2 linked regions of the Homo sapiens genome follow. The protein of the gene in region 2 interacts with the protein of the main gene of each other region in a biochemical or structural test. Each region holds a gene or a part of one and is shown on either strand. Other genes may lie near its edges.

Region 1 (17,070 bases), on a different chromosome or scaffold from region 2:
TTGCATCTGCAGTTGGTTTCCCTGTTTAACTGCCATCTAAGAGCATACATTATGAAACAAAAACATGCGACGTGATTATCTTCTCCTAAATAACATTTCAAAGACATCAAAACAGAAGAGTGTGGTAAGTTATGCTAGAAAATACTAGGATTTGTGTTTGCTTTATTAAATCCAACAACAAATGTAATGTTTACACTCAACTTGCTATTTCTTTGGTAAGAATGTTAACTAGAAATTTATTTATTTATTTATTTATTTATTTATTTATTTATTTATTTATTTTTGAGACGGAGTTTTGCTCTTGTTGCCCAGGCTGGAGTGCAATGGCACGGTCTTGGCTCACTGCAACCTCCGCCTCCTGGGTTCAAACGATTCTCCTGCCTAAGCCTCCCAAGTAGCTGGTATTACATACAGGTGCCAACCACCACACCCAGCTAATTTTTGTATTTGTAGTAGAGATGGGGTTTCACTATGTTGGCTAGGCTGGTCTCGAACTCCCGACCTCAGGTGATCCACCCACCTCGCCCTCCCAAAGTGCTGAGATTACAGGCATGAGCCACCGTGCCCAGCCTAGAAATTTATTTTTATTTTTTTGAGATGGCAATTTGCTCTGTCACCCATGTTGGAATGCAGTGCATGGCTCACTGCAGCCTGTCTCTTGGGCTCAAGCGATCTTCCCACCTCAGCCTCCCGGGTAGCTGGGATTACAGGCGCATGCCACCACACCTGGCTAAGGTTTTTGTTTTAGTTTGGAGACAGGAGTCTCACTGTGTTGCCCAGACTGGTCTTGGACACCTGAGTTCAACTATCCTCCCACCTCAGCCTCCTGAGTAACTGGGACTACAGGTGCGCACCACCATACCTGGCTAACTTTTGTATTTTTGTAGAGGTGAAATTTCATGATGTTGCCCAGGCTAGTCTCGAACTCCCGGGCTCCGCCCACCTTGGCTTTCCAAAGTGCTAGTATCATAGGTTTGGGTCACTATGCCTGTTGGCTAATTTAAAAAATTTTTTGTCATACATTACCCAGGCCGGTCATGAACTTGGTTTTGTTATTAAAACCACAAAAGTATTGTGTTGCTTTATTCCACAAAAACAAACAAAAAAACCCATAAAAGTAGGTTTTAAGATGGCAAATTAGGTAAGATTCTCCTTAACTGGGTTACTATTTTTCTGTTTTTTTTTTTTTCTTTTTTTTGAGGTGGAGTCTCGCTCTGTCACCAGGCTAGAGTGCAGTGATGCAATCTCGGCTCACTGCAAACTCCACCTCCCGGGTTCAAGCGATTCTCCTGCCTCAGCCTCCCGAGTAGCTGGGACTATAGGCGCACGCCACCACACCCAGCTAATTTTTGTATTTTTAGTAGAGATGGGGTTTCACTATGTTAGCCAAGATGGTCTCAATCTCTTGACCTCGTGATCTGCCGCCTCAGCCTCCCAAAGTGCTGGGATTACAGGTGTGAGCCACTGCGCCTAGTCTAATTGGTTTTTATACAAGACTCTCTCTATGGAATCTTAACTCAGGTTTCCAAAAAGGTTAATTCTAGACTAACAAAACTCAAGAAACTTAAAGATATGTCCTATAATTAAGCATTTACTTTTCCAATAAAAATAGTATTTTGGGGCCAGGCGCGGTGGCTCATGCCTGTAATCCCAGCATTTTGGGAGTCTGAGCTGAGCAGATCACCTGAGGTCAGGAGTTCGAGACCAGCCTGTCCAACATGGTGAAACCCCATCTCTACTAAAAATGCAAAAATTAGCTGGGCATGGTGGCATGCACCTGTAATCCCAGCTACTCAGGAGGCTGAGACAGGAGAATTGCTTGAATCCAGGAGGCGGAGGTTGCAATGAGCTGAGATGGCGCCACTGCACTCTAGCTTGGGCAACAAAGTGAGACTCTGTCTCAAAAAAAAAAAGAATAGTATTTTGGGGCGATGAGAGGTGGGTCATGCCTGTAATCCGAGCACTTTGGGAGGCTGAGGCAGATAACTTGGGCCCAGGAGTTCAAGACAAACCTGGGCAACACAGCAAGGCCCTGTCTCTATTAAAAAAAAAAAAAAAGTTTAAAAATCATCGGAGCATGGTGGTATTTTCCTGTAGTCCCAGCTACACAGGAGCCTGAGGTAGGAAGACCACTTGAGCCCAGGAAGTCAAGGCTGCAATCACACCACTGCACTCCAGCTATGTGAGCTGTGATCATACCACTGCACTCCAGCCTGGGTGACAGTGAGATCCCGTCTCAAAAAAATATATCGAAGTGATTTTTTTTAACAAGTGCTGTCAGTGAAAAAAAACTTTTTAAAAATAAAAATAACTAGCCAGGTGTGGTAGCTGGGTACAGTGGCTCACACCTGTTATACCAGCACTTTGGGAGGCTGAGGCAGGCAGATCACTTGAGGCTAGGAGATTAAGACTAGCCTGGCCAACATAGCGAAGCCCTATTTCTACTAAAAATACAAAAAACAGTTGGGTGTGGTGGCACATGCCTGTAATCCCAGCTATTAGTGTGGCTGAGGTATGAGAATTGCTTGAATCCAGGAGGCGGAGGCTGCAGTGAGCTGAGATTGTACCACTGCACTCCAGTCTGGGTGACAGAGCAAGACTCAAAAACAAACAAACAAAACCAGCCAAGTGTGGTGATGCACACCTGTGGTCCCAACTACTCAGGAGGCTGAAGTGGGAGAACTGCTTGAGCCTGGGACGTTGAGGGGGCAGTAAGCCATAATTGCACCACTGTGCTCCAGCCTCTATGACAGAATGACACACGTGTCGCTGGGCGCAGTGGCTCATGCCTGTAATCCCAGCACTTTGGGAGGCTAAGGCAGGTGGATCATGAGGTCAAGAGATTGAGACCACCCTGGACAACATGGTGAAACCCCATCTCTACTAAAAATACAAAAATTAGCTGGGTGTGGTGGCGCATGCCCGTAGTCCCAGCTACTCGGGAGGCTGAGGCAGGAGAACTGCTTGAACCCGGGAGGTGGAGGTTACAGTGAGCCAAGGTCGCGCCACTGCACTCCAGCCTGGCAACAGAGCAAGACTCCATCTCAAAAAACAACAACAAAAGGAATGACACACACGTCAAAGAAAAAAAGAGGCCGGGCGTGATGGCTCACACCTCTAATCCTAGCACTTTGGGAGGCTGAGGTGGATGGGTTGCTTAAGCCTAGAAGTTCAAGACTAGCCTGGGCAACATGGTAAAACCCTGTCTCAAAAAAAAAAAGACGCCAGGCGCAGTGGCTCACGCCTGTAATCCCAGCACTTTGGGAGGCCAAGGCAAGAGGATCACCGGAGGTCAGGAGTTCGAGATGAGCCTGGCCAACATGGTGAAACGCCGTCTCTACTAAAAATACAAAAATTAGCTGGGCATGGTGGCATACACCTGTAATCCCAGCTATTAGGAAGGCTGAAGCAGGAACATCACTTGAACCTGGGAGGTGTAGGCTGCTGGTAGCCAAGATCGCACCACTGTACTCCAGCATGAGCAACAGGGCGAGACTCCGTCGCAAAAAAAAAAGAAAAAAAGCATTCAATGGGTAACTACATCTGAGGTGATGGATGTGTTAATTAACTTGATTGTGGTAATCATTTCACAATGTATACATATTTCAAAACATCACATTTTATACACATTTTTATATTTAAACATACAAATTTTTAAAAATTAGAAACTAAAAACAAAAAAAAAAGCATTCCATGTCCAAAAAGTGGCTGTCATCTCTGCCTTAAACATAACATTGTATGGGCTATAGAGAACAGAGTGACATAGGCTGTGCACAGTGGCTCATGCCTGTAATCCCAGCACCTTGGCAGGCCAAGGCAGGCGAATCACTTGGGTAAGGAGTTTGAGACCAGCCTGGCCAACAAGGCGAAACCCTGTCTCTACTAAAAACTACAAAATAAATTAGCTGGGTGTGGTGGCGCACACCTGTAATCCCAGCTACTTGGGAAACTGAGGCATGAGACTCACTTGAACCCCAGAGGTGGAGGTTGCAGTGAGCCAAGATTGCGCCACCGCACTCCAGCCTGAGCGACAGAGTGAGACTCTGTCTCAAAAAAAAAAAAAAAAAAAAAAAAGGAGAGAACAGAGTGAGGGAAAGAGGTGAAAAATGTGAACCAGTAAACATAGTTCTAGAACAGGCATGGTGGTGCACACCCATAGTCCCAGCTACTCGGGAGGCTGAGGCAGCAGGATCACTTGAGCCCAGCAGTTCAAGGCTGGCCTGGGTAACATAGCAAGACCCAGCCTCTTTAGGAAAAAAAAAAGGGGGGCATCAAGAGTTTTTTGGGTTTTTTTTGTCTTTGAGATGGAGTTTCCCTCTTGTTGCCCAGGCTGGAGTGCAATGGCGTGATCTCAGCTCACTGTAACCTCTGCCTCCCAGGTTCAAATGATTCTCCTGCCTTGGCCTCCCAAGTAGCTGGGATTATAGGCATGCACCACCACACCTGGCTAATTTTTTGTATTTAGTAGAGATGAGGTTTCACCATCATGGTCAGGCTGGTCTTGAACTGCTGACCTTGGGTGATCCGCCTGCCTCAGTCTCCCAAAGTGCTGGGATTACAGGCATGAGCCACTGCACCCGGCCAAGATATTTGTTTTTTGGTTTGTTTGTTTTTTTTGTTTTGAGACAGAGTCTCACTGTCGCCCAGGCTGGAGTGCAGTGGCACGATCTCGGCTCACTGCAAGCTCCGCCTCCGGGGTTCACGCCATTCTCCTGCCTCAGCCTCCCAAGTAGCTGGGACTACAGGCACCCGCCCACGCCCGGCTGTTTTGTATTTTTAGTAGAGACAGGGTTTCACCACGTTAGCCAGGATGGTCTTGATCTCCTGACCTCGTGATCCACCCACCTCGGCCTCCCAAAGTGCTGGGATTACAGGCGTGAGCCACCACGCCTGGCCAGTTATTTGTATTTTTAAACACTAGAACAGTAGCACAAAGACCAGCAAAGAGATGGGACTGTAACTGAGAAGGACCTTTTTATTATGAATTGCCTTTTGCTGAGTGTCGTGCCCATTCATCAGTCTCCCTATAAACAGGTTTCACTGTGTTTATACGTACTAGTCTCTCCCCATAACTAATGGAATTCAGGTTTGAGTTTCAGTCAATAAATATTTTAGGCCAGACGCAGTGGCTCATGCCTATAATCCCAGCACTTGGGAGGCCAAGGCCAGCAGATTGCTTGAGCCCAAGAGTTCCAGACCAGCCTGGGAAACATGGTGAAACCCTGTCTCTAAGAAAAATATAAAAAGTTAGCCGGGCGTGGTGACGTGTTTCTGTAGTTCCAGCTACTCGGGAGGCTGAGGTGGGAGGATCACTTAAGCCTGGGAGGTGAAGACTGCAGCAACCCCAGATTGTGCCACTGCACACCAGCCTGGATGACAGAGCACAACCTCATCTCAAAAAAAGAAAAAAAACCAACCCATAATAATATTTTTTAAATTATTTAAAAATGAGATTAAATAATCATTACCTTAAGCGCTTCTTCATATTCTCCTAAAAGAACAAAAAATATACACCATGATACTTCTTCACACACCCCAAAAGATTCTATTATTTTAAAATTATTTTTATTTTGTACACATCCATTCATTCATTCAAGAACCAAAGATTCCATAAGATTAAGGATAGCCAATCCTAAAGATGGACTGTACAACATGAGGAACATATTATAGTTAAATAATCGTAAATTATATTCATGATTTTTGCTAAATGAGTAGATTATGGCTGGTTTCTGGGGAGGGCTCAGGGCACCACAGGGCCACTATAATGAGATGATAGATATGTTAATTTGCTTCACTACAGTAACCATTGCCACATAACATTTTGGTCAACCATGTGTATGATGGTGATCCCATAAGATTATAATGCCACATTTTTACTGTACCTTTTCTATGTTTAGATATGCAAATACCATTGTGTTTCAACTGTCTATAGTATACAGCACAGTAACATGCTCTACAGGTTCGCAGCCTATAAGCAATAGGTTATACCATATATCCTAGGTGTGTACTAGGCTATACCATCTAGGTTTGTGTAAGTACACTCTATGATGTCCATATAATGACAAAATCACCTAATTGATGCATTTCTCAGTACAAATCTCTGTCATTAAGCGATGCATTACTGTATATGTATTTCATAACATCATGTTGTGCACCTTCAATATATACAATAAAAATTTGTTAAATGTACAGCTAATCCTGACTTTAAAGAATTCTTAGCTTATTATATATGAACAGCAACTATCTTTTTGCTGACAAACTCCCTTTTTGTTGCAAACAGCATCTACTGTAGATCAGTTCTTCCCCTTAAATCCCTCCTTCATCACTACTGGGAATCTTCCAGTTACAAAATCTCAACCCAGGTCCCTCACATTTACGCACTGAGAGTTCAATGTTAATACTATCATTTCACCTGATTAAATTAAGATTTTAGGGGCTATCGTGGGAAACTAATCTTCAACTATAACATGGTTCCTATGGGAAAATGCACTCCAAGCTCTGAACATCTGATAAATAAACTTTTGGAATACCACTTGTTTTATAAGTTGATATTAACATATATACCAAGTCAGAAACAAATGCAACACCATGGGAATACTTATATGTGTTGAACTGGGAGGCATATTAATTTCAGAGGACTGGCATCTTAAATATGAGAACCTCCCATTAAAGCTGTCCTTAGGGTCCATTCAAAGGCATCATCCTATATATAAAAAACTGCTATACAATAAAATCCCCTAGGTAACTAATGTCCATCAGTGCAATGTCACTCTAAAATTAATACTGCAATAAGGTTTGAGTATAAATAGAAATGCCTCAATGAGCAGATTAAGGTTTTTAAACAAGGCTGAACAGACTCTCTTAGGGACTCACCTTGACTGTTGATGGATACCTATAAAAGGAAAAAAAGCAACAGTGAATTATAAGTGTCTCATCAGTTGAGCATTTCTGTTACTAGGACCAGCCCCATAGGACAGACAAAAACTCAGGCCAAGCGTTCAGCTTTTCCATATCACTTGCTAGTCATGAATAACACTTAAGAAATTTTATTGCTTATCTACTGTGCCCTCCTTTATTTCAGATACATTAAAAGGCAGTGCAATATAACAGTTAGGAGCTTGAGTTCTACAGCCAGAGGGTATGGACTGAACGGCTACTTTACTACTTCCAAGTTTTTGTGCATTTGGACAAGTTATTTTCACCTCTCTGTGCCTCAGTTTCCTCATGAGTAAAATAGTGATGATAATAATGTACTCAATACATGGTACTGTGGCTAGTCTGACACACTGTAACCACTCAATAAAGCTTAGCCATTAGCCTGAGCAACAAAGTGAGATTCCATCCCTCCAAAGAATTAAAAAATTTTGCCAGATGCAGAGAGGTATGTCCTAGCTACCCAGAAGGCTGAGATGGGAGGATTCCTTGAACCCAGGAGCTCTAGGTTGCAGCAAGCTATGCCAATGCACACCAGCCTGGGCAACAGAGTGAGACCCTCTTTAAAAAAAAAAAAAAAAAAAGCTTAGCCATTATATTTGTATTATTATAAACTAAGTGGTAGCTTGTGCTATATGTGAACTTAAGGTCACTATATAATTTTAAAAGTTATCTTGGCCAGGTGTGGTAGCTCACAACTGTAATCCCAGCACTTTGGGAGTCCGAGGTGGGCTGATCGCTTGAGCCCAGGAGTTCGAGACCAGCTTGGCCAACATGGTGAAATACCGTCTCTACTAAAAATACAAAAATTAGCCAGGCGTGGTGGTATACACCTGTAATCCCAGCTACTCAGAAGGCTGAGACAGGAGAATCACTTGAACCCAGGAGCTGGAGGTTGCAGTGAGCAGAGATCGCACCACTGCACTCCAGCCTAGGTTATGGAGTGAGGCTTCATCTCACAAAAAAAAAAAAAGAAAAAAAAAAAAGGTTCTCTCAGGCCAGGCCAGGCATGGTGGGTGTCTCACACCTATAATCCCAGCACTTTGGGAGGCTGAGGTGGGAGGACTGCTTGGGCCCAGGAGTTCAAGACTGGCCTGAGCAACATAGTGAGACCCTGTTTCCTTTTTTTTTTTTTAAGTGAAAGTTATCTCTGAGATATTCTTCAGTGTTGCTTCTCCATTTCTCAACTCCATCTCAGATGCTGCAAGTCTTCTTAGAATATTCAGTTATCAAATATATTTAAACCACCACACAAATAAGCTAAACACTATTTTGAATTATTAAAGCCCATATCACTGGAGAAATAAGATCCCTATTCTGAACACCTAGCAATAAGTGCCATAATATATTTTACCTCTTCATTTTCCTCATCCAGGTATTTTATTTGAATAGTATTCAGATCAAATGAAACTTTTACCTATAAAAGAGATACATATTTAAAGGCAGGTTATAATGTACACAGAAGTCAAAGTAAAAAAAACCCACAAAATCAAAAGACAAACAACAAACAACCTTAATAACCCATAACAAAGGGTTAATATCTGCAACACACCCAGAGTACCAGCAAAACTGCTAATGATACAATTAACAACCCAGGTAAAAATATACATAAAATTCATACAAGAGGAAATCAGAACACCTAACAAATACATCAGAAGACTTTCAAACTTTCTGGTGGTCAGAACAATGCAAATTGAAGCAATGAGATGACATCTCATCAGAATACCAAACTGTGTGTGTGTGTGTGTGTGTGTGTGTGTGTGTGTGTGTGTGTGTGTGTTTTGGGTGGGGTGTGGGGTAGGGAACAGCAAATGTTTTTTAAAGCCATAACATCCAGTGTTGTCAAAACTTCAGGACACTGTCATGTATTTCTGTGTGCTGCTACAATTGTTCTGCAAAGCATTTGGCAGAATCTATTAAAATTTCAAATAAAATGCTTTGTGACCCATTAATCTCACATTTGTATAGGACAGAGTTTATCCTGTAGAACAGTGTATAAGTTATGTGTATAGATGGATATCTCCTGAAGTTTCAAGATAAGAAAAAAAAAAAACGAAAAATATCTTTTTTTTTTTTTTTTTGAGATGGGTCTCACTCTGTCGCTCAGGCTGGATTATAGTGGCTTGATCTTGGCTCACTGCAGCCTCAACCTCCAGCACTCAAGCAATTCGCCCACCTCAACCTCCGGAGTAGCTGGAACCACAGGTGCCTGCTACCAGGCCCAGCTAATTTTTGTATTTTTTTGGTAGAGATGGGGTTTTACCATGTTGCCCAGTCTGGTCTCAAACTCCTGAGCTGAAGTGGTCCACCCATCTTGGCCTCCCAAAGTGCTGGGATTCTAGGCGTGTGCCACTGTGCCTGGCCAAATAATGTTTATAGTATGATCCTAGTATGATATCTGCATGAACATGGAAAATTTAAAGTACATACAGGGCTGTTAACATTGGTTACCCAAAGAAGGTGGGAGTAACAGATGAGGGGGGGGAGAATGGAGGGCTATTAACTGCTTGAGATGGTTTCTCTTCTTAAAATGGGCATGTATTATACTTATACAATTTAAAATTTACAAGGAAGAAAAAAGGCAAGCTGTCAGCTCATTTAACTACTAGGAAAAGAAAGATAACTGATTTTCACATCTTTTGGCAAACAAGATCTAACTTCTTTCTGAATCCAATCTTTTTTTTTTTTTTGAGACGGGTCTCACTGTCACTGATAGGACAGTATGAACAGGTATTTGCTGGAAGGCAGACAACTACCTCAGATCATCTTTTAAGATCTACCATTTCTTTCCCTTTTTAGTTATCATCAGATATAACCAGGTAAACGTAGATTTTTACCAAAGGGTTTCAGAGAGAAACACAGTCAACACAGGAAGTAAAACATTCACCACTGCAAACTGAACAAAAACAGAAGAGTACAAAGGGCAAACCAAGAGGAGGAAAAGCCTTAGCAAAAAAACGGAACAGGTGAACTGCTGTCTAAGCAGGTATGAAAGTTTTTCCTGCTCAACTCTGAGATACTCAACCTCTGACCTAGCAATAAAAACAATTGATAGGCTCTTGCAAAACACAAGTTATATCCTTGTGCAAAACACAAGTCATATCCTCACACAAGAGAACATTTCCTTGGGATCTGGTTGGGTGGAGTCCACACCAATTCACTCCTCATACTGGTTCTAAAATTAATAGGTTTTCTAAATCCTATCTCACTAAAAACAATTTTACCTTCCCTTTCTAAAATGTTCAAAAGGAAATTTATGTGTTGGTTCCCTTTATTGGGGCACATCTCATATATGAATACTGAAACCCTATCAAAAGCAATTTTCCAAAAGGCCCAGAAATGGTAACTATGACAGACTTCACAGCTATGAAACAACACTGCTAAAAATAGCTACCTTTGGAAAAAATAACCATGCTTAAACCAAGGAGAAACAAAATAAAGTAACACTCACCATAGCTTCGATATCAGCCCAAGTTGTATTTTCTGGATCAGAAACCAGAAAGCTTTGAATTTCATTTTTAAAAGTCACATTTAGAGTAACCTGTGGTTCCATGCTGTGAGGCTAGGGTTGAGAAGGTTGGTGGGAGAGAGAGAAAAACACATTAGAAAGGGTTCTATAAGTTGCACTAAAAGTTCACTCAGCAAATACTTGTGAGGACCCAATATGGGCTGGGCTTGGGAGACAGCAATGAACAAAAGAAACACTGTCCCTGTTCTTACGAAACTTACCATCACTGTTAAATAGGAATTGTTTCAGGAAAGAAAGATAGGCTAAAACCATGCCATAAAGACTTGTACTTAAGTCACAAAAATTATTCTTGAAGTTATTAGGAACTTCCACATGTTGGAAACATGTGGAAACAGAAGTATGCTGAAAGTATTTAAATTTTGACCACATTCCCAGAAATCATCTAGCATTTGTAAAATCCTTACGGTACTTTATGATGACTGGTTAACTAAACAAATACTTACTAGTAGCAGGACATACCAACATGGATAAGAGAGATAAGGTCTCTGCCCTCAGGGAACTTGTATTCTTGTATGACTTGAGAGTGACATTCTACATTTTTCTTGCAGAAGGAGGGTTGTCCTAACTTGAGAACCTAGGTTTTCTACCAGTTTTACGAACTTACAGGCCAAAACACTAGCCAAGAAACTACACAGAGGTAGCATTCAATGCCCTCCATCCAAGTTACTATGTTTTTTCACAATCTACTGATTTTTTATTTTATTTTATTTATTTATTTATTTTTGAGACGGAGTCTCGCTCTATCGCCCCAGGCTGGGGTGCAGTGGCACGATCTCAGCTCACTGCAACCTCCACCTCCTGGGTTCACGCCATTCTCCTGCCTCAGCCTCTCGAGTAGCTGGGGTGCCCGCCACCACATCCGGCTAATTTTTTTTTTTTTTTTTGTATTTTTGGTAGGGACGGGGTTTCACCGTGTTAGGCAAAATGGTCTCGATCTCCTGACCTCATGATCTGCCTGCCTTGGCCTTCCAAAATGCTGGGATTACAGGCATGAGCCACCGCACCTGGCCTTGTACTGATTTTTTAAATGGGGGATTTCAAACATATATAAAAGTGGAGAGTAATAAACACTTAGTTAAACCAACAATCAACTCAAGGCTATCCTCATTCACATATACCCCCGCATCTCCCACTTCTGCCCCAACAATGAACTGACCATAGTCAACTAATGTTTTAACCAAACTATAATAATATAATTATTTTATATTATTGTATTTATTTATTTTGAGATAGAGTCTTGTTCTGTCGTCCAGGCTCAAGTGCAGTGGCACAATCTTGGCTCACTGCAACCTCCACCTTCTGGTTTCAAGCGATTCTCTCACCTCAGCCTCCTGAGTAGCTGGGACTACAGGCGCCCGCCACCACGCCTGGCTAATTTTTTTGTATTTTTAGTAGAGACGGGGTTTCACCGTGATAGCCAGGATGGTCTCGATCTCCTGACCTCGTGATTCCACCCACCTCGGCCTCCCAAAGTGCTGGGATTACAGGCGTGAGCCACCATGCCCGGACTATTTTTTAAAATATTTTTATGGGAAAATTTAAATCTATACAAAAGTAGAGAGAATATAATGAATCCCTATGGACCCATAAGCTAGCTTCTTTCATAATTATCAACTCAGGACCAATTTGCTGTAACCAAAGGTTTACAGCAATACCCTTTCCCTACTAGATTATTTTGACAGACATCTATGCTTTTATCCATTAAGAATTGAGTATGTACCTCTAAAAGATAAGAATTTTTTAAAAACAGTCTAGATATCATTATCATGCCTAACAAGTTAACAATTCCTTAATCAGATTTCTATTCTGATCATTATGTTTTTAATTAAGGATTTTGTTTACTGATGAATGGTTACGTTTAACTGGTTTTTATGACTTTATGAAAAAATAGCTTAGGTTGAGAGGAACAAGATATGAAAAAATAGCTTAGGTTGAGAGGAACAAGATTAAGTCCCAGGGATTTACAGCGTGGTCTGCGGGGGTGGGGGTGGGGGGCAGAGGGGAGGCGGAGGAGCACACAAACTGGGAAGACTTAGCTTCCAGACATACCTCCGGCCCATTACTAGACATAAAACTGTGAGCAGGTCAGTTCGCTTTTGAGCTTCGGTTCTTTAACCTATAAAATAGGTCTAATACGTCTGCTTTGACTATCTCACAGTGTTACCATAAGGATCAAATTAAAAATGTGTACGCAAGTTCTTTCAAAATGTCATTCAAATATAAAAAATATGATAATAAAGGCCAAGCACAGTGGCTCATGTCTGTAATTCCAGCATTTTGGGAAGCAGAGGCAGGCAGATCGTTTGAGTCGAGTTTGAGACCAGCCTAGCCAACATGGTGAAACCTCGTCCCTACTAAAAATACAAAAATTAGCTGCGTGTAGTGGCGCAGGCCTTTAATCCCAGCTACTCAGGAGGCTGAGGCAGGAGAATTGCTTGAACCTGGGAGGCAAGGTTGCAGTGAGCCAAGATCATGCCACTGCACTCTCGCCTGGGTGATAGAGCGAGACTCTGTCTCAAAAATAAAATAAAATAAAAAACTGGACGGGTGTGGTGGCTGATGCTGGTAATCTTAGCACTTTGGGAGGCTGAGGCGGAAGGATCATGAGCCTAGGAGTTCAAGACCAGCCTGGGCAACAAAGCCAGACCCTGTCTCCTTAAAAAAATTAAGTTCAATTAAACATTTTAAAAAATAATAGGGCCGGATGTGGTGGCTCACGCCTGTAATCCCAGCACTTTGGGAGGCCGAGGTGGGTGGATCACGAGGTCAGGAGATCGAGACCATCCTGGCTAACACGGTGAAACCCCGTCTCTACTAAAAATACAAAAAATTTAGCCAGGCGTGGTGGTGGGCGCCCGTAGTTCCAGCTACTCGGGAGGCTGAGGCAGGAGAATGGCGTGAACCTGGGAGGTGGAGCTTGCAGTGAGCCAAGATCGCGCCAATGCACTCCAGCCTGGGCGACAGAGCAAGACTCCATCTCAAATAAATAAATAAATAATAATAAACCAGTCTTTAGAACCATAAACCTGTACTGTTTTCCACAATGTAATGCACTGCCCTGTAAAATACTACAATTAAGACTGTCATTTAAAGGCACTTTTTTGAAACCCTAAGACAATTATCCCCCAATTTTCTCCATTCTTTGTTTCTACCAAGAACCAAGTTCACCACCAAAATAATATTAGTCTCTTAACAACAATCCTGCTGACATCTAGTATTCATTCATATGAAATGTAATTATTGGGGTCCTTAAAATTTGAGAATCTTTGTCAATTCCCCAGGACCTTAGGCAAAAAATCAAGGAAATGAAGTGACTCAGTCCGCCAAAAGTGGGTATTCTGAAATATCACTTTCCAACTTCAAGAAACACACTTCCCTACTTGTGAAGGAAATGAATCTTCCTCTCTTTTTCTCAAATTACACAATTGGAAATTTAGATACTCTGGAGCTCCTCCAGCTGGTGGGCCAACTAAGAGAAAACAGGAAGTGGGAGATTCTAGCTTGGCTGGACCATATCCAGGTCTTCATAAGGAACTCTCTTTGGCTGACATGTAAAAAAATTCTTTCAGCAGGAGCATTAATCTTAAACGTGTGTAAACACCAAAGCTATGGTTAACCCTATCTGCCCCTTAGGTCTACAGCCAGTAGAGTCAGATAGCTGGGTCTTAGGCCTTCAGCTTTCATAACTGGCATTATTGTAAGTCCATGCCACTGACTCACCTTTGCTTGGCACAAGTTAGCTTTTCCTCCACGTCGATTTTTTTTTCAGCCTCAACAAAATCCCTTTAATGAAACAGACCTGGCAACCTGAGCTTTGATTACTGTCTCCACCAGAGGCCTTTACAAGCCAAGTTATCCAGGCTTTAAAATGTGTGACCTGAGGCCGGGAGCGGTGGCTTATACCTGTAATCCCAGCACTTTGGGAGGCCAAGGCACGAGGATCGCTTGAGCTCAGCAGTTCAAGCCCAGCCTGGGTTGGTCTTTGAGAAAGCAAGACTCTGTCTCAAAAAAGTGTGGCCTGAAAGCTGAGTGTTTGACAAAAAGGAAAAACAGTGCCTTTCCAAAACCGAAGGTCCCTAACCAAGGAGATCTCTTTAAGGTCTCGAAAAAACGAGGATGGGATGAGAAGGATGTGTAAGTAGTGTCATTTTTTTACTTGCAGAGTTCATCCTAGTCTTCCAGTTTTCGTTTCCTAGCACTCCATGTTCCCAAGACAGTGTCACTACCCCGAGGGCTCTCTCATTTTCTTTGCCTAGGCCCTCATTCCACTGGGGAGTCGTGGCCTTCCATCAGTAGAAGCCGGATGTTCTGACCCACAGACTCTCCAACTCTCCGGCGCTTCTCGCCAACTCGGTCCCTCTGAACATGAAGGGCTCTCTCATCCTGTCACTAAAAAGATTAGCTGTCCCGAAACACGGAAAAAGTCGCCCCTCTTCTTTGCAGGATTCCTCCCTTGAACTTCCCCAAACCCTCTTAGCGTGACGTGACCCCACCCCTAGGTAACCGCAGCTGCTTCCTTACCAGCTTCCCGCCCCCGGGGGGCGCCTGCCGGAGGCCAATGCAAGGACCGTCCGCTACCGGCTCTGCCGCTATCCCTGTGGGGTGAATCTAACATGGCGGATAAAGACAGTAACTAGTCCCCTGTTTCTCCGAGTGTTCGCCAAGATGATTGGCTCTCACCACTTGTCCCTCAAAACGACCACGCCATTGATTGGTGGAGATTGCGTCGATGGGGCGGGGCAGAAGCAACCTGAACCCGAACAACAATAACAAACATTGAGGCTGAGGGGCGGAACTAGGAGTGCGCAGATGTGGGCCAGAGCGGATTTCCCCTTCCCCAGGCAAATTCGGCGCCCACTGCGTCCCCGCAGGCCACTGACCTTAGAGGACTACTTGCCCGAGACTCGTGGGGCTGGATGGGAATCGTAGTCTTCCTAGGAGTTGTAGGTATCTTTTTTTGGCCTAGTCTCTGCTCTCAAGATAGGAGAACATAACAACACTCCAATCCATTACTGTTGACATGTATAAGCCCGCGGAGGTCTCCAATCTATCCACTGGATTTCCGTGAGAATTGTGCCCGCTTTGGTATTGGATGTTCCTCTCCATAAGACTACAGTTTCCAAGGAACAGTGTGGCCAAGGCCTTTCGTTCCGCAATGCATGTTGGAAATAGTAGTTCTTTCCCTCCACCTCCCAACAATCCTTTTATTTACCTAAACTGGAGACCTCCATTAGGGCGGAAAGAGTGGGGTAATGGGACCTCTTCTTAAGACTGCTTTGGACACTATCTTACGCTGATATTCAGGCCTCAGGTGGCGATTCTGACCTTGGTACAGCAATTACTGTGACGTAATAAGCCGCAACTGGAAGCGTAGAGGCGAGAGGGCGGGCGCTTTACGGCGAACTCAGGTAGAATTCTTCCTTTTCCGTCTCTTTCTTTTTATGTCACCAGGGGAGGACTGGGTGGCCAACCCAGAGCCCCGAGAGATGCTAGGCTCTTTCTGTCCCGCCCTTCCTCTGACTGTGTCTTGATTTCCTATTCTGAGAGGCTATTGCTCAGCGGTTTCCGTGGCAACAGTAAAGCGTGGGAATTACAGATAAATTAAAACTGTGGAACCCCTTTCCTCGGCTGCCGCCAAGGTGTTCGGTCCTTCCGAGGAAGCTAAGGCCGCGTTGGGGTGAGACCCTCACTTCATCCGGTGAGTAGCACCGCGTCCGGCAGCCCCAGCCCCACACTCGCCCGCGCTATGGCCTCCGTCTCCCAGCTTGCCTGCATCTACTCTGCCCTCATTCTGCAGGACTATGAGGTGACCTTTACGGAGGATAAGATCAATGCCCTTATTAAAGCAGCCAGTGTAAATATTGAAACTTTTTGGCCTGGCTTGTTTGCAAAGGTCCTGGCCAACGTCAACATTGGGAGCCACATCTGCAGTGTAGAGGGGGGGAAAAAAACGTGACTGCGCGTCGTGAGCTCGCTGAGACGTTCTGGACGGGGGACAGGCCGTGGGGTTTCTCAGATAACTGGGCCCCTGGGCTCAGGAGGCCTGCACCCTCTGCTCTGGGTTAAGGTAGAAGAGCCCCGGGAAAGGGACAGGGGCCCAAGGGATGCTCCGGGGGACGGGCGGGGGAAAGTGAATTTCCGAAGCTAGGCAGATGGGTATTCTTATGCGAGGGGCGGGGGCGGAACCTGAGAGGCATAAGGCGTTGTGAACCCCCCGGGGAAGGGGGCAGTTTGTAGGTCTCGAGGGAAGCACTAAGGATCAGGTTGGGGGCACAGTGTGTCCGAGGAGGAATCCTCCTGATAGGAACTGGAATGTGCCTTGAAGGGGACACCATGTGTATAAGAACATCAGCTGGTCGCCGGGGATGGTGGCTTACGCCTGTATTCCTAGCACTTTGGGAGGCCAAGGCGGATGGATCACGAGGTCAGGAGTTCGAGACCAGCCTGACCATCGTGGTGAAACCCCGTCTCTACTAAAAATACAAAAATTAGCCGGGCGTGGTGGCGCGCGCCAGCTACTCAGGAGCTGAGGCAGGAGAATCGCTTGAACCCAGGAGGCGGAGGTTGCAGTGAGCCGAGATCGCGCCATTGCACTCCAGCCTGGGTGG
Region 2 (17,070 bases):
GGGCACTAAGTTGATGCTCAGGTCTTGGGTCTTGGCTGTATTTCAGATTACTGCTTTTATGTTGGGGTTTTTATATTGATGGTCATCTAGCTTCCCTCCCCCGAGGCTCCAAATTCCAAAAGTTGAAAAATTAACTTTACTCTAAAATTTCTCCTCTCCCAACTTCTGGCAATACCAATCCCTCTCCACTCTTTTTCTCTGGCTCATCATCTCTGTGGTCATCTTTGCCTCCTCTGCCTATCTCCTGTATTATTAATCACCAGGTCCATTTCATTTTTCCTTCAACAGCTTTTATATCAACCCCATTTCAGTTGCTGCCACCCTGATCTGGGTCTCTATTAACTTTATGTTTGGATTAATAGAACAATATTCAAGTTTCTAGCAATTTAATCTCAGAACTGGCTTTTACTGAGTTGTAATGAGTAGATTGATCTTTTTATCTCTAAGATGGAAAGAACACCAATGTTATCAATGAGAACAAGAACATGCTCTGAAAACACTGAATAAATGAGAAACCTAATTCACATTCATTGTCCAGTATATCTTCCCTGTCAAGTTTTATATGTACTCCAATTCTCCTTCTTGTCATCTTCACAATTTAGTACCTGATTTCAAACTATTCTTTAACAGTTTCATGTGTATTAGTCTTGTTCCCCTAACTAGACTACAAAAAGTCAAGATTATAAAATAACCCCGTCTAGCACAGTTGATAGAGATACTAGAATTTATTTAATATTATAGAAAAGAAACATTGCAATAATTTGAACGTAAACTTCATTCTTTATTCATTAAAAAACTCAGACTACTTACAATATTTATTCCTATGGCTTCATTACAAACACCATAATGATTTTGCTAAGTTTTAATAGCCCAATCTTGTTCTGGCAAAGATCTGCATTTACCGCAATGTGATCTTATTAATTTAGACTAAATGAAGGACAAGAGTAAAGACCTGCCTAAATTAGTATACAGATAAATTAGAGAATATCTTTAAATAAGTATAAATTCTAAGAATAGATCAAAGCAAAAAGAAGGAGGCCAGTACAGTGGCTCATGCCTGTAATCCCAGCACTTTTGGGGGCTGAGGCAAGAGGATCACTTGAGCCCAGGAGTTTGAGACCAGCCTGGGCAACATGGCAGGACCCTGTCTCTAACTAAAATACAAAAATTAGCTGGGTGTGGTGGCACACATCTGTAGTCCCAGCTACTCAGGAGATTGAGGTGGGAGGAACGCTTGAGCCTGGGAGGCTGAGGCTGCAGTGAGCTGAGAAGGTGCACCACTACACTCCAGCCCAGGTGACAGAGTGAGACTCTGTCTCAACAAAAGGAAAAAACAAACGAGAAATAAATTAAGGGTTGTCTAATGAATGTTCCCTAACTTAATAAAAAAATGAGAATAATATTCAAATTGGTATATCAAATAGTAGTCCCAAGCAGTTAACTTTATTACATTGTATTGAGATCGGACAACAGTTCCCTCCCATAATTCTATTTATGATTAAATTGCTTATTATAGCCATTTCCCCCTAAGAATAGCACAATGATTAAATGTCAGCCCAGCCCCATTCCACATTGGGGAAATCCAAATAATCAAGAATTTAACAAATGTTATCTATTTTAGAATTTAATAGTCTCAATTCAAAGTCTCAAAATAAACTTTTTGTATTCTAAAAACAAAGACTCCTAGTTTCTCCATATTTTGGGGGTGAAAAAATTAGTCTTTGGTTGATATTTTCCAACTTTGAAATTATTCCAAAGGTACATTTTCTTAGAAAAGTTTAAGTAAAATGGCCGGGCGCGGTGGCTCACGCCTGTAATACCAGCCCTTTGGGAGGCCGAGGCGGGCGGATCATGAGGTCAGGAGATCGAGACCATCGTGGCTAACACGGTGAAACCTCATCTCTACTAAAAATACAAAAAATTAGCCGGGCATGGTGGCGGGCACCTGTAGTCCCAGCTACTAGGGAGGCTGAGGCAGGAGAATAGCGTGAACCCGGGAGGCGGAGCTTGCAGTGGGCCGAGATCGTGCCACTGCAGTCCAGCCTGGGCGAAAGAGCAAGACTCTGTCTCAAAAAAAAAATAAAGTTTGAGTAAAATAAGTTCAGCCACCTAAATTAAGTGAGGGGGGAAATCAGATACCATCTCTTTATGTCCTCTAAAGCAAAATAGTATCATATGTATCTAAGTTTAAAGACAAAAATGAAAAGGTTTTAGATGCTTTAATCTTCCCAACAGATATAAACTCTCTGGTGAAGTTTTGGCACGCACACAATTAGACACTAACTTAAAACTTGAGAAAGGCTTTAAAAAATACCCGTTTAAATAAGATGCATACGGAGAAAAAAAGTGATTATGTTCTTGTTCGAGACTTGAAAAAAAAAACTACACAAGAAATACATGTTGTGGGAGATTTAAGTATTAGCTGAAGACATGAGGACTCCATTCCTACTCATCTCTCCCCTCCACCGTCAACATCCCTCTCTGTCGAGTTCCCCACTGTCAGTAGAGCGGGCACAATCCCAGTTTCCATTTTGTGGCTTCTTTACATATACACAGGTAAGTTTCTGTGTAAGGGCAACTGTGTTTAAATGTAGCCACACCTATAAGTTGTTTTTAACTTGCTTTTTATTTTCCTTAAAAATATGTCATAGAGATACAGGAAGGTAAAATAATTGTTTAATTCATCTGTATGGATGTATTAGATTTATTCAACCATTCTCCATACTAACGGACATTTATGTCAGTAAGAATTGGTCACCTTGAAGGCAATGCTGCAATTTACATCCTTATCTATATTTGAAGTATAAATTAGAATTCTAGACAGCTTCCTGGTACTTAAAGACTTTTCTAATGAGTCAGTGGCAATATTAAAAAATGTAGTTTTTTTGATATTAATGAGTCAGTGGCGATATTAAGAAATGTAGTTTTTTTATATTAATGAGTTAGTGGCAATACTAAGAAATGTAGTTTTTTGATATTATAGAATAAAATGTATCAACATTTGGAAGATCTGCTTAACTCAGTGGAGCACTATTTTTCAGGTGACCAGTGCATGATGTTACAAAATCAGGGATGAGTAAGAGATCTATTGAAAGTGAAAGAGTCCCTCTCCCTCTCCCGTCTCCCTCTCCCGTCTCCCGTCTCCCTCTCCCTCTCCCGTCTCCCTCTCCCTCTCCCGTCTCCCTCTCCCTCTCCCGTCTCCCTCTCCCGTCTCCCTCTCCCTCTCCCGTCTCCCTCTCCCTCTCCCGTCTCCCTCTCCCTCTCCCGTCTCCCTCTCCCTCTCCTTTCCACGGTCTCCCTCTCATGCCGGGCCAAAGCTGGACTGTACTGCTGCCATCTCGGCTCGCTGCAGCCTCCCTGCCTGATTCTCCTGCCTCAGCCTGCCGAGTGCCTGCGATTGCAGGCGCGCGCCGCCACGCCTGACTGGTTTTTGTGTTTTTTTGGTGGGGACGGGGTTTCGCTGTGTTGGCCGGACTGGTCTCCAGCTCCTAGCCGCGAGTGATCCGCCAGCCTCGGCCTCCCGAGGTGCCGGGATTGCAGACGGAGTCTCATTCACTCAGTGCTCAATGGTGCCCAGGCTGGAGTGCAGTGGCGTGATCTCGGCTCGCTACGGCCTCCACCTCCCAGCCGCCTGCCTTGGCCCCCCAAAGTGCGGAGATTGCAGCCTCTGCCCGGCCGCCACCCCGTCTGGGAAGTGAGGAGCGTCTCTGCCTGGCTGCCCATCGTCTGGGATGTGAGGAGCCCCTCTGCCTGGCTGCCCAGTCTGGAAAGTGAGGAGCGTCTCTGCCCGGCCGCCATCCCACCTGGGAAGTGAGGAGCGCCTCCTCCCGGCCGCCATCCCATCTAGGAAGTGAGGAGCGTCTCTGCCCGGCAGCCCATCGTCTGAGATGTGGGGAGCGCCTCTGCCCCGCCGCCCCGTCCGGGAGGTGAGGGGCGCCTCTGCCCGGCGGCCCCTACTGGGAAGTGAGGAGCCCCTCTGGCCGGCCAGCCGCCCCGTCCGGGAGGGAGGTGGGGGGCTCAGCCCCCCGCCGGGCCAGCCGCTCCGTCCGGGAGGGAGGTTGGGCGGGGGGTCAGCGCCCCCTCCCGGCCAGCCGCCCGGTCCAGGAGCTGAGGGGCGCCTCTGCCCGGCCGCCCCTACTGGGAGGTGGGGAGCCCCTCTGCCCAGCCACCACCCCGTCTGGGAGGTGTGCCCAACAGCTCATTGAGAATGGGCCATGATGACGATGGCGGTTTTCTGGAATGGAAGGGGGGGCAGGGTGGGGAAAGGATTGAGAAATCGGATGGTTGCCGTGTCTGTGTAGAAAGAAGTAGACATGGGCGACTTTTCATTTTGTTTTGTACCAAGAAAAATTCTTCTGCCTTGGGATCCTGTTGATCTATGACCTTACCCCCAACCCTGTGCTCTCTGAAACATGTGCTGTGTCCACTCAGGGTTAAATGGATTAAGGGCGGTGCAAGATGTGCTTTGTTAAACAGATGCTTGAAGGCAGCATGCTCGTTAAGAGTCATCACCACTCCCTAATCTCAAGTACCCAGGGACACAAACACTCTGCCTAGGAAAACCAGAGACCTTTGTTCACTTGTTTGTCTGCTGACCTTCCCTCCACTAGTGTCCTATGACCCTGCCAAATCCCCCTCTGTGAGAAACACCCAAGAATGATCAATAAAAAATAAAATAAAATTAAAAAAAAATCCTAAAAAAAAAAAAAAGAAAGTGAAAGATAAACCAGTGGGTGGTAATGTAACAGAGTATGAAAGGTCCATTGATAGATTTCAGATTCCACATGGTTGAGTTTTAGTGTAGTATCAAAGAAGAATATCTACAATTGTCTGAAAAGGCTATTAAAATATTTCTCCCCTTACTAACTCCCCTTCTCTGTGAGTAGCTGTATTTTCTTTATATACTTCAACCAAAATAATATATTACAGATTAAAAGCAGGAGCAGATACCAGAATCCAGCTATTTTCTGGTAAGCCAGATATTAATGAGATCTTCAAAAACATAAAGCCATGCCACTCTTCTCATAATTACTTTTGTTCTGGAAAAGTTATACAGTTATTTGCCATAAAATGTCATTTATATTAACAATACTGTTTAATTAAAAGTTTTAAATTTTTTCCATTTTAATTTCTAATATGGCAAGTTATAAATAGCTGTAACTCACCAAACCAAAAGCTCTCTGAGGTCCTGAATAAAATTTTGGAGTGTAAAGGGATCCTGAGACCAAAAAAGTTTAAGAACTGTTACTGTCCATAAATCTCTGTGTGTTTAAGTCTTTTTCTAAAGGATAGTGTTCTAGATGTGAACTGCTAGGTAAAAAGATATGCACATTTAAAATTAAAATCCTGCCAAATTGCTTTTCAAAGAGCTTTGCCAGCTCAAATTCCCACCAAATGTTATGTGAGAATGCTCGCTGACCTACACATGGGCAATGACTGGAATGATCAAACTCTTAGATTTTGTGATTAGTCTCCATAAAGAGGTTTCTCATAAGATTTGTTTCAGGAGTAAACTCCTCTAATCCATCTAAAAATGAGATTCAACTCAGAAAATTTTAATTTAAATATAATTTCTCAGGCTTGACTGTCCCCAGCTTACCAAAAAATTACCTGACTACTCGTGAATGGTTGTCTGGAACAGAGACTTTTCCCACAGAAACAATGGTAGTTAACAGCCCTCAATATGTAACGAAACAAACTCCCACAATGTGCTGAATTCTAGATGTGCACTACATTGTAAAAACTGACAACACTGTTTCTATCTGAAAGAGCACTTCATGCCCTAGTTGGAATACTGGGAACTCTGATACAATCCATCCAATATATCCTAAAAATAATCTTCATCTTTTCTTTGCCATTCCACCTTTTAGAGGGGGGTTCCTCAATAACTCACCACATTTGCAGAGCTCCCATGTGGGCGCATGGTCTCCAGTGGGCACTAGCATTGCATTAGAGAAGCTTGAGAGGCCAAAGGAAGAGTTATCATATCTCTAAGGAGAGAGAAAGGGGCGGGGTGGTGGGGGGGAGGGCAGTGAGAGAGAGAGAGGAAGGGAGACTGGGTACGGGCGTGTGTGTGTGTGTGTGTGTGTGTGCATGTGCATGAGTGTGCTGGGTATGGGTGTGAGGGGAGGGGTTAAGTACCACTCAGTACAGAAATCCAGAATTTCCTGGAGTGTGAAACAGGCAAGGTGAGGGATGGAGAGACAGAGAAGTACAGCAGGACATATGGGTGTGTGACTTAGGTACTAGTGAATATAAAAGCCCACAAGTGTGGAGTCAAGGAATGTAAAGGGGACAGGAAAAGGGGTGGGGAAATGGAGAAACATGATGGGGGAGGGGATGAGGCACACTTTTAGGATAGTGCAATCTGTGTACACTAGCAACAAACAACAGCAGTTGGTCCACGACTCAGCGGGGGCGGACAGAGGACTGGACTGCCCTAATATTATGCCAAGTTAGTGTGAAGGGACAGGCTTTGATTTTGCAAAGAAATGAGCTCAAACGCAGGCTCTGCTGGTGACACTGCCCACCCCATGCCAAGGACGTGGCTCACTTCTTAGAGCATTGAGTTTCCCCACTACAATGTGGAAATAGTAGTATCTTCCTCCTTCAAAATGTTGCAGGAATTTAACTGAGGTTATTTACTTAAAGGACCTGGAACAAATGGTAAAAGTTTACTATGCACTAGTAATGTCTTACCAGTGACTAGATTAGATAAGCTAAAGGGCCACTTTAGGTTGAAGTATTCTATGACAAACCATAGAAATACCAGGAAAAAGTAGCTCTAAAAACATAAGCCTTCAGACAAGATAATCTGGTAAAACACAGAATAACCCTAAAAACAAAAAGACCAAAGAAGTGGAAAAAAATTTCTATATATATAAAAATAAGAACTAAAAGGGCAAGCAACAGATTATAAAAATATACTTGCAGCAAATATGACAGATGGAGATTCATATCTTTATTATGCAAGAGGGCATACACATGAAGGAGAAAAATAAGGCCCTGATAAGTAAATATACAAAGGACATCAACAGATAATTAATTCACAGTTATAACTGTTTAACAAACAGAAAAACATTTTATTAATTAGCAAGCAATAAGATTTTATATGTATATTTTATATACATATATTATGTATGTATATTTTATATACGTATATTATGTATGTATATTTTGTATACGTATATTATGTATGTATATTTTGTATACGTATATTATGTATGTATATTTTGTATACGTATATTATGTATGTATATTTTGTATACGTATATTATGTATGTATATTTTGTATACGTATATTATGTATGTATATTTTGTATACGTATATTATATGTATGTATATTTTGTATATGTATATATGTATGTATATTTTGTATACGTATATTATATGTATGTATATTTTGTATATATATTATATATGTATGAATATTTTGTATACGTATATTATATATGTATGTATATTTTATATCCCTCAATGTGTTAAAGGAAATTCTAATACTGGTAGCAGCTCCTTGCACATGTATCAAAAGTCATAAAAATATGACCTCCTAAATTATTCCAAAACTATAATAAACGTGGAAAATTCACATAGGTGTATTCCTAACACTGAGGTGAGGGGAAGAACCTTAATATTTGACACTAAGGAGGTGGTCAAATAATGAAACATCAAACTGATATCAGCAACATGGAAAATTTCATATGAGAATGTTAGGGCAATGTTGTTTCATGATAGTCTTGAAAGAGAATGTTTAAGGCAAAATAAATAAGATACACAACTGTTTAAAAATATGGCTGGGCACAGTGGCATGTGTCTGTAGTCCCAGCTACTCTGGAGGATGAGGTGGGAGGACCATTTGAAGCCCAGGAGTTGGAGGCCAGCCTGGGCAACAAAGTGAGATCCTGCCTTTTTAAAAAAAAGTACAAAGTGGGAAAATTACATCAAAGGGCTAAGGGTGGTTGTTCAGTTTTGGGGTCAGAGTGACAAGAGAATCAAATACTGGTTCCAGGCCCCCAAAACAGGCCACTAAGAACAAGGAATCTTTCTGAATCATAATTTCTTCAATTACAATTATACAGGCTGCTGTAAGGATACAATGAGAGATCTAACCGAAGGGCTGGATTATACTTAGTACATGGTAAATGCTAGATAAATGGTAGTCATTTTACTTTTTATTGGTAATATAGTTACATTGCTTTTTATTGCAAAAATATTATAAACAAGAATGTTTTCATTATTTGACTATTATATAGGGTATTTCCTGAACAAATACTTCTTAAAATTAGCTGTCTTCTCCCTTTAAATTTTCAGAAATGAAATCAAATGTGAAAATAACATTTCTGTTAACCCACATGTAACATTTACAAATTGTTCTGTCTTATCTATTTTCTAAATTTTTTTAAACTATAAGAAGTGCTTGCAAAAGAAGGTTAAATTTGTACACTTAACACATAAAACCCAACAGATGCTGCTGTAAAGGGTCTCAGATGTAACACTGACATATTCTTGTGGTGTCTTTGCATTTTCTCTGTGGGATCCTGCACAATCCTGCACATTCTGAATCATCTGTTGGCTTCTGAGTATACACTCCATGATCAAATACAGATAGAAGTAGTGTTCTTCCATGTTTAGGGCCATGAATTTAAAACAGATTTTGGACATTCAATTTTCCTTCCTATCATAGATTCCTTCATAACATAGAACTGAACATTTGAGTTCCTCCATAAGACCATATATTATGAAGTGTCAATCCCCCACCCTTGGGAGGTGATGATTACTTTCCAAAGTATTTATCTATAAGCATGGATAATAATTTATAGAAGTATGGGCCAGGCACGGTGGCTCATGCCTGTAATCCCAGCATTTTGGGAGGCCGAGGTGGGTGGATCACCTGAGGTCAGGAGTTCGAGACCAACCTAGCCAATATGGTGAAACTCTGTCTCTACTAAAGATACAAAAACTAGCTGGGTGTAGTGGCGCGCACCTGTAGTCCCAGCTACTCAGCAGGAGAATTGCTTGAACCTGGGAGGTGGAGGTTGCAGGGAGCCAATATCATGCCACTGCACTCCAGCCTAGGTGACAGAGCGAGACTCCGTCTCAAAAAAAAAAAAAAAAAAAAAAAACCCAAAAAAACCCACAAAGTATGATACCACTACTTCTTGTTACTTTCTTTTTCCAAGCATGTTTTATTCATTAGGGCATGAAATAAAAGCTAGATAAACATTTATTTATAAGTAGCCTAATGTCAGATGACATCTTGCCTTTCTGTTTTACCTGCCACCATCCAAACCTCAATGGCATGCTCCATGAATAAACTCTACATTTTTAAAACACTGACTTCACAGCTCAGTACAATGTGATTCATAATAATAAAAGAGTACACTTTTGTTTTGAATACCTTTTTACAATGATAGACATCTTAATCAAAGATGCAAATAAAACAGCCAAATATACTTCTAAGCATCTCGGATAAAGCGTGTGGTCAAAAGAGACTTTGCTGGAAAGGACAGTCACGTTTTACAATTTGGCACCAGCTCCGGGGTTCTAACTTTTGAAGCTTTTGCAAGAGTTTGAAGTCAGAGAAAGAAAGAAAAAAATACGTTAAGGAAAGAGGACTATGATTTAACGTAAAGAAAGCAGTTGTTACTAATTTAACCCACGAGTTGTATGTCTGCCATTACCAGTTTGTCTTTCTGTCGTTCACCATGGATGAGAAAGCCGCTTCGTCCATTGCCTTCGGGGTGCATGACCTTACAGACCCCGACGCGACTGATCCCGCCTCCTTCCTGTGGGAACCATCCCCCGCTGGAGTCATCTCTGGTCATAACCACAGCCTTGACACGCACAATATAGCTGTCACTAAAACGACAAGAAGAAGAAGCACAGGGCATGACAATGGTCTGGTAGTTGCAGAACACGTTTCAAAATGCAAGATGACCACCAGCCAGCACTTTTTTTGTTTTATCGAAAGAAATCTATGCTTGGCGGCAACCTTAAAAAGTGGTCCATCTCAACTTTTAGGGAAAAAACAAAACACTTAAACTCAATATAAAAGTACATTTTAAAAAAGATAAGTAATTAAAAATTACTTGTGATCGAAAGATGTATACAGGCACAATATTCTCCAGTTTCTAGGTGTAAGTACTGATAAATGAATTGATTTCTGTAATTCAGTATCTTTAGGTTGGAAAGACACACACCTATTTTGGTTTTTAGTTGTTGTTTTTTTTTTTTTTTTTTTTTGAGACGGAGTTTCGCTCTTGTTGCCCAGGCTGGAGTGTAATGGCGCGATGTCGGCTCACTGCAACCTCCGCCTCCCGGGTTCAAGCGATTCTGATTCAGCCTCCCAAGTAGCTGGGATTATAGGCACCTGCCACCATGCCTGGCTAGTTTTTTGTATTTTTAGTAGAGATGGGGTTTCACCATGTTGGCACGCTGGTCTGGAACTCCTGACATCAGGTGATTTACCCATGTTGGCATCCCAAAGCACTGGGATTACAGGCGGGAGCCACCACGCCCAGACTACAAACCTATTAAGACGGTATTATGGTTTCAACCCTTTAAAATGAGTTGAAAATGAATGACCAAGTTTTAACATTTTATAAAGCCAAGAATCTCATTTAGCATAAAATAGGATAATCTACTTGCAAATCATAAATTCACCATGAAATCACGTATCTAGGTAGGAAAATATTTCAATTCCAATAACCCTTTACATATTTGTAGACTTCTGTTTATGATTTTATTTCTTCCAGTCTAAAACCTCAATTTCACAATAAGTTCTTCTGCACATTTGCCAAAAATCCTTTTTCTCCCCCAGAGACCAATTCTAGCTTCTTTTCATTCTTCATCACTTTTGGGGGAAATTTATTTGGATTTTTGGCAAGGCCATTACATTCTCACTTGCTGTTTTCTTTCTTTGGATAGAATTCATTTTTACTCATTCAAACATATATTTGCGTGTTGTATATGCCAGGCGTTATAACAGATTCTCAGGAAACAAAGTTGCAGAGTAACAAAGAACCCCCATTATTCCCTGGGCCTCAGGGAAGACGCCCTCACCCTGGGCACTCAGAACCTGGTCCCCACAATTGGCCAGAGACGTGGAGGCAGTCCCTGTGCCCCACAGCCCTGCTCACCTCACTCACCGCTAAAGGCAAAGCCACCAGATTTTCTATGACCCCCTATGGCTCACCCTCCACTGCCACCCAACTGATCTCCCTTGGCCCCCCCAACCCAAGATCTACCATTCCCTTTACTTCCTCATCCCCTTCTCTGATCATTCCTTTCATTTTTTTTTTCATTGCGGTAAAATATGAATGGCATAAAATTTCCCGCTTTAACCATTTTTAAGTATACAAGTTCAGTGGCATTAATTACACCCACACTGTTGGGCAACCATCACCCCTTTCTACCTCTAGAACTTTTCGTCATTCCAAACTGAAACTCTGTACCTATGAAAAACACTAACTCCCCCTTCTCCACTTCCTCGACCCCTCAGCCCCTGGCACCCACCATTCTACTGTCTTGTCTCTATGAATCTGATACTCTAGGTACCTCATATAAGTTCCTTTCCCTTTCCTAACCTAAATTAAAATGCACTCTTGGCTGGGCCTCTGTGGCCCATTCTCCCAGGGCTGCTTTCTATCTCCCCACTGCACCCTGCTGGGCCTAGATGTGGGTATGGTGCTTGCCACTGCTGCAGACTATTCAGCCTCCCTCCAGTGCTTCTGAAGCTCACACCCTGACCCCTCTCACAACCCTTCTTCAGTCTTCTACAGACCTCACTTCCCTTCATTCCTTGAAGACTTCAGCAACCAGGCTCACTGACTCTCCATCTCTCCACCATGATCCCTGGCCCGATTCTTGATAATTTCATTATTGACATGGAGGATTCCTCCAATTCCCTGGCCTCTCAGTGTCTGGGCCTGTTTCCTTCCAATGCCCTTGTCTTACAACCAACTTTAGCCATTCATGCCCAGGTCAACCGTGAATCTCGTCATTACCAATATCTGCACCACCTCCATAACTCAATTGTAAGCATCCTGCTCTCCGACCACCTCGTAAGTTTGCAGCTCTCTCCCTCCAGACTCCAATAATTCTTTACCCTGTTGGGGCCAACAATCTATTGTTCTGACCACTTTTGCCCTCCCCCAAACCCCATGTCCTCAACTGATTCTCTACTCCTCCCCTTGCTTGTTGCCATTGCCTGGCATGACCCCAGTGGAGTTAAATCCTACCATCTACCTACTCTGTAACCCCACCCAGGCTGCTGAACATAGTGAGAGGGAAAAACCCCACTCTACTATGCTCATAGGACTAGTTTTAAAGCCATAAACACTACTCTCAAGTGAATCCTTAAGTGCCACCTGGCATCCTGCTACATTTCCCTGATCTGTCCCCCAAAGACAACTTCACATGGCCTCCTACCCCCTCACTCTCAGATGATGGATGAAGTTGCTTTAGTTTCACTGAGAAAATAGACAAAATCACAGGAGACCTTTCGCCTGTGCCCACCACCATGCCTACGCTTTGTACCAGCACTCTCTCCGCCCTTCCTCCTGTAACTGTGGTTAAGCCATCCATGATTCAAGCTAGGGCCAACTTCCTCCACTTAAAAACCTTCTACATACCAACAGTGCCCAAATTCACATTTCCATCCAGGTCTCTTCTGTGAGATTCAGGCCAGTAGAACCAAGGGCCTATGTGAGGTCTCTACATAGGCATCGAATACGTATCACAATCAACATGTTTCAGGTTGAACTCTCTTGGTTCCTGACACCTCCTCATCCTTCTAGTTCTCTCTTCAAAATATATCCAGGATCCACTTTTTCCACTTCTACTGACACTGACCTGATCCAGCTGCCATCACCTTCCATTGAGATTGCTGCAGTAGCCTTCTAACTGGCATCCTTGCTTCCACGTTTGCCCAACTTAACCCAGAAAATAGAAAGGTAAGTCAGATCATTCTACTGAAACAAACCCTCCAGTGGTATCGCCAAGCAGAAGTCAAAATCTGGACCTTACCCTATTACTCTCCTTGCTCATTCCACTTTGGTCCCACTGGCCTCCATATTAAGCATCCTTCTACCTCAGGGCCTTTGCACTTGCTGTTTCTTCTGTTCAAATCCTACTCCTCACATACCAACTGAGTTCATTCTCTTATTTCACTTAAGTCTCTGTCCAAGGTTATTTCAGAGAGGACTTCCCTGCCCACTCTATATAAAGCAGCATAGCACCCTCCACCCCTCTTAAATCTTCTCCCCTCTGCTTTGGCTTTCTATATGCTACTAAATCAATGCTTGCTCAATAAAATATCTGCTTGCCTACCAGAATATGAATTCCACAGGAGCAGAAACTTTGCCTTTTTTGTTCACTGCTATATCCCTAGAGCCTAGAATGGTGTCTTATATGTAACAGGTTGCGGAATGAATGGGGTTAAATTCACAATATAAACAGGTTTAAAAAAAATTATCTATAGCAGGCTGGAAGCGGTGGCTCATGCCTGTAATCCCAGCACTTTGGGAGGCTGAAGTGGGCGGATAACCTGAGGTCAGGAGTTCAAGACCAGCCTGGCCAACATGGTGAAACCCCGTCTCCATTAAAAGTACAAAAAATTAGCTGGGCTTGATGGTGGGCGCCTGTAATCCCAGTTACTCGGGAGGATGAGGCAGGAGAATAGCTTGAACCCCAGAGGCAGAGCTGAGATCGCGCCACTGCACTCCACCCTGGGCAACAAGAGCAAAACTCCGTCTAAAAAAAAAAAAAATCTATGGCTAACAGAATTCCTATAAAAACATATAGTGTTCAATACTTATTTACTTATGAACCACAATTACTAAATTGGGATCACAGTACTTTCTATTCCTAAAAATTGAAAAATCATGTAGAAGTACATATAAAAGTCATAGGACATACATGTACATATATGACTAATCCAACTATTTCAGGATTCAACATGCATATTCCCTTAGATTAAGAACCTTCTGGGCTGGGCGCAGTGGCTCACGCCTGTAATCCCAGCACTTCGGGAGGCTGAGGCGGCCGGATCATGAGGTCAAGAAATTAAGGCCATTCTGGCCAACATGGTGAAACCCCGTCTCTACTAAAAGTACAAAAATTAGCTGGGCGTGGCGGTGCTTTCGCCTGTAATCCCAGCTACTCAGGAGGCTGAGGCAGGAGAATTGCTTGAACCCAGGAGGTGGAGGTTGCAGTGAGCAGAGAATGCAGTGAGCAGAGATCAGCCTGGCGACACAGCAAGACTCTGTCTCAAAAAAAAAAAAAAAAAAAAAAGAATCTTCTGTAACATTTATTTAGATTAACTGCATACAACTTTGGAGAATATCCTTTCCCCCACTCCAACCCCATTTATTTAAAAACAAACAAACAAACAAAAAAACCTAAGGGTCCTACGACTTTTAATTCTCTAGTGTGCAACACAGCTTTCTCAAATCTTCTATAAGTATACTATGGGTTCATCTCAACAGGAGATGGCTAAGGTGAAGAATTGAAACTCTGTGCACCTCTTGTTAAAACATGCTTTCACTTTTTTTGTGTTGCAGTTATGTGCTGTTCTGTTTCTTTGAGGGGATTAAGTAAACATGAAAAAGAGAAGTTTGCATTACTTATGTTAGTGCCATAAACTTATTTCCAAAAAGTACCCATTTGTTAGAGAATTTAAAAATACCATACCCTTCTGTGTCCAGACTACAAGGCTGTTAACTCTGGCCTTTGCTTGCACTCTGAGGCCTCCTCCTTCCTGCCTCGATGCCTCCTATCAAGTGCCTTCTCCAGGGTATAGACTTCTCTGTGATGGGATTGGGGGAAGGGGAGGCTCAGGGGCAGAAGCCCCCTTTGTCTCCTCCGGCAACAGCCCCGACAGCCAGCATTAACTGAGGCATCTGGCTATTTAAAACAAGGCAGGGGGATAAAGTGCTGGACTAAAAGCTGCAAAGGATGTCTGGATAATCCAGCTGCATGGCTGCGTGCCAACTGCTTCCTATCCATGGTGTATTTACGTTACTCAGGCACTTCACCCCACCCAGCACAGAAATGACAATGAACTCCACTACCAAAAAGGTATAAAGGAGGAAAACTCTCTTCCCACCTTCCCTCCCCCTCTTTCTGGAAAGAATTAAACAACATCTGTTTAAAACAGATGCAGGGTTTGTTAGTGGTGGGGGGATGGGGCAGGAAGGGCAAGGGCAGATTAGTTTTAAAAATTTGCACAAGGAAACTGCTGCTGGTATGCCTTAGAAAAAAATGTCAAAACATGCTATCTTTGTCAAAAATAACAACATTTTAAAAGAATGCTTCTGAAATTAACAACTGCTGTAATGGTGTGGATCTAGTGAAGCTCCAGCCAAGGGTCCAAACCCCAACTGAATGGAGCCCGAGTGTCTGAACTTGAGCTGAACAGCCCCAACAATGTTATTACAAATGGTGTTGGACGACCAGCCCTCAATACCATATTCTTTAGTTGTGTTATGAGCAAAACTGGCTGGACTGAGGATCTCCCATTTAAATGTGGCTTCTTTAAGGAAAAAGCCTTGTGTTCCCAACATGTGGACTTTTTGTAAAAACAGGGCTTCCTGTCCCGGGATCACGCAATATGCAAAAGAGGCAGGTGACATTGTAAGTCAGGATAGGAAGGCAGAGAAAAAAATCTTTCAAAACTGGATTAGCATCTCCACAGGAAAGTTTTAGACCTCAGCCTTTATGTTCTAAGTGTTCTCCAGTTTCAAAGCAGGCCCCGTCTGGGCCACGTTACAGACATAAACCAAGGAAGTGTAGGAGATGACGGCGAGGCAGCACTGGGTCTCACAAAGAATGTGTGCTCTAGGGCCAGGCGGCCCTGAAGTCCCCAGCCCTCTCAGGAGCTGAAGAAACCTCTTTTTAAGCTTCAGTTTCCTCCTTTGCAAAATGAATAGGGGATCTACCCTGCTGGCTGAAAGTAGTGTTACAGGTCGTGTCAGATCCAGAAGTTTGGTAAGTTGTAACCATCATCATTTTTGCTGAAAGGCTACCTCAGTGACAAAAACAGGTCCTTGAAACACCAGCTTCCCTGGCCACTGAGGAGTGGGTTTCGACTGCCTGCCCTTTCCAGCTATCAGAGAGTGGAGGGGCAGGGAAGCTGTCAGGCTCTTGACAGTAGGAGGAAATTTGACATGGACCTCCAGCAATTGTCAAGAGAAGTCAGGTTTATAAAGACCAGGTTTAGTCGTCCACTGCAGGCATACCTGTAGAAGAAAATAATGCTGTCCGCCATCTGTGAACTGGCCCTCTGCTCCTGCCCCTCCCCATTTCTTTCAGGGATGGAGACTGGGACTTTTACCTCCCCCATAAATACTTCCTACAGCCAGCCCTTATCTGATTACACGGCTCCTTTATCTCTCCATTATGCTCAACATTAGATTCACTTCCTCCCAGCCTCTTCTCCACTTCACCAGACCTTGAGAGGGATTAGCCAAGATCCCAGCCTCTCCAGCCCAACTCCCAGACGCCAGCTGAGCCAAATATAACACCAACTTCTTGCAGGGAGCCAGGCACACTCACTTTATTTTAATCACATCCCCCGCCCCCGGTCTTCCTTGTGCTTATAGATTTATAAAGGCTCTTTGATTTCATCGAATTATATGTTTAAAATATTATATATGTGTGTATGAAGTATATGTGAATATAAAATACATATGACTAGTGATCTTTTTAAAAAGAATCAACAAAATGCTTCAGTAGAATCAAATGTGTTGAGAAGCTGAGGGTACTGGTCATACTTTCTATTTGTTAAGTCGGGTGGTGGTTTTGTGGGTGTTCGTCTTAAGTATCAACTACTCAAGAATTTTTTAAAAGCGGACTGCCCTGGTTTTGGAAGTTTATATATTCTGAACTTTATGGGCAAGGAAAGTTAACATAACGTAATTTTATGCATGGTGGTAACATGATTTTCTGCTCTGTACAAGCCCCTGAAGGTAGAACACTTGCTCTACACGCTATAATGTCCCAGAAAATAAGGCCTTTGTGTTAACCACCAAAATATGTACTGTTTGTGTGGTTAGGGTAGGCCATTACAG

The links.
Region 1: the proteins of SPRED2 (region 2) and NBR1 form a complex in vitro, tested with the Homo sapiens proteins (one study listed by BioGRID).

Annotation. Positions count from the first base shown.
Region 1 is NC_000017.11:43,169,216-43,186,285, reverse strand, and holds the start of NBR1 (next to BRCA1 gene 1 protein), read right to left. Parts: upstream 15,073-17,070; 5' UTR 14,984-15,072; exon of another isoform or gene 14,183-14,983; intron 10,496-14,182; 5' UTR 10,487-10,495; coding exon 10,385-10,486; intron 8,351-10,384; coding exon 8,288-8,350; intron 6,893-8,287; coding exon 6,874-6,892; intron 5,492-6,873; coding exon 5,469-5,491; intron 37-5,468; coding exon 1-36. UniProt on the Homo sapiens protein: Ubiquitin-binding autophagy adapter that participates in different processes including host defense or intracellular homeostasis.
Region 2 is NC_000002.12:65,335,038-65,352,107, forward strand, and holds part of SPRED2 (sprouty-related, EVH1 domain-containing protein 2), read right to left. Parts: intron 9,860-17,070; coding exon 9,682-9,859; intron 1-9,681. UniProt on the Homo sapiens protein: Negatively regulates Ras signaling pathways and downstream activation of MAP kinases. Recruits and translocates NF1 to the cell membrane, thereby enabling NF1-dependent hydrolysis of active GTP-bound Ras to inactive GDP-bound Ras.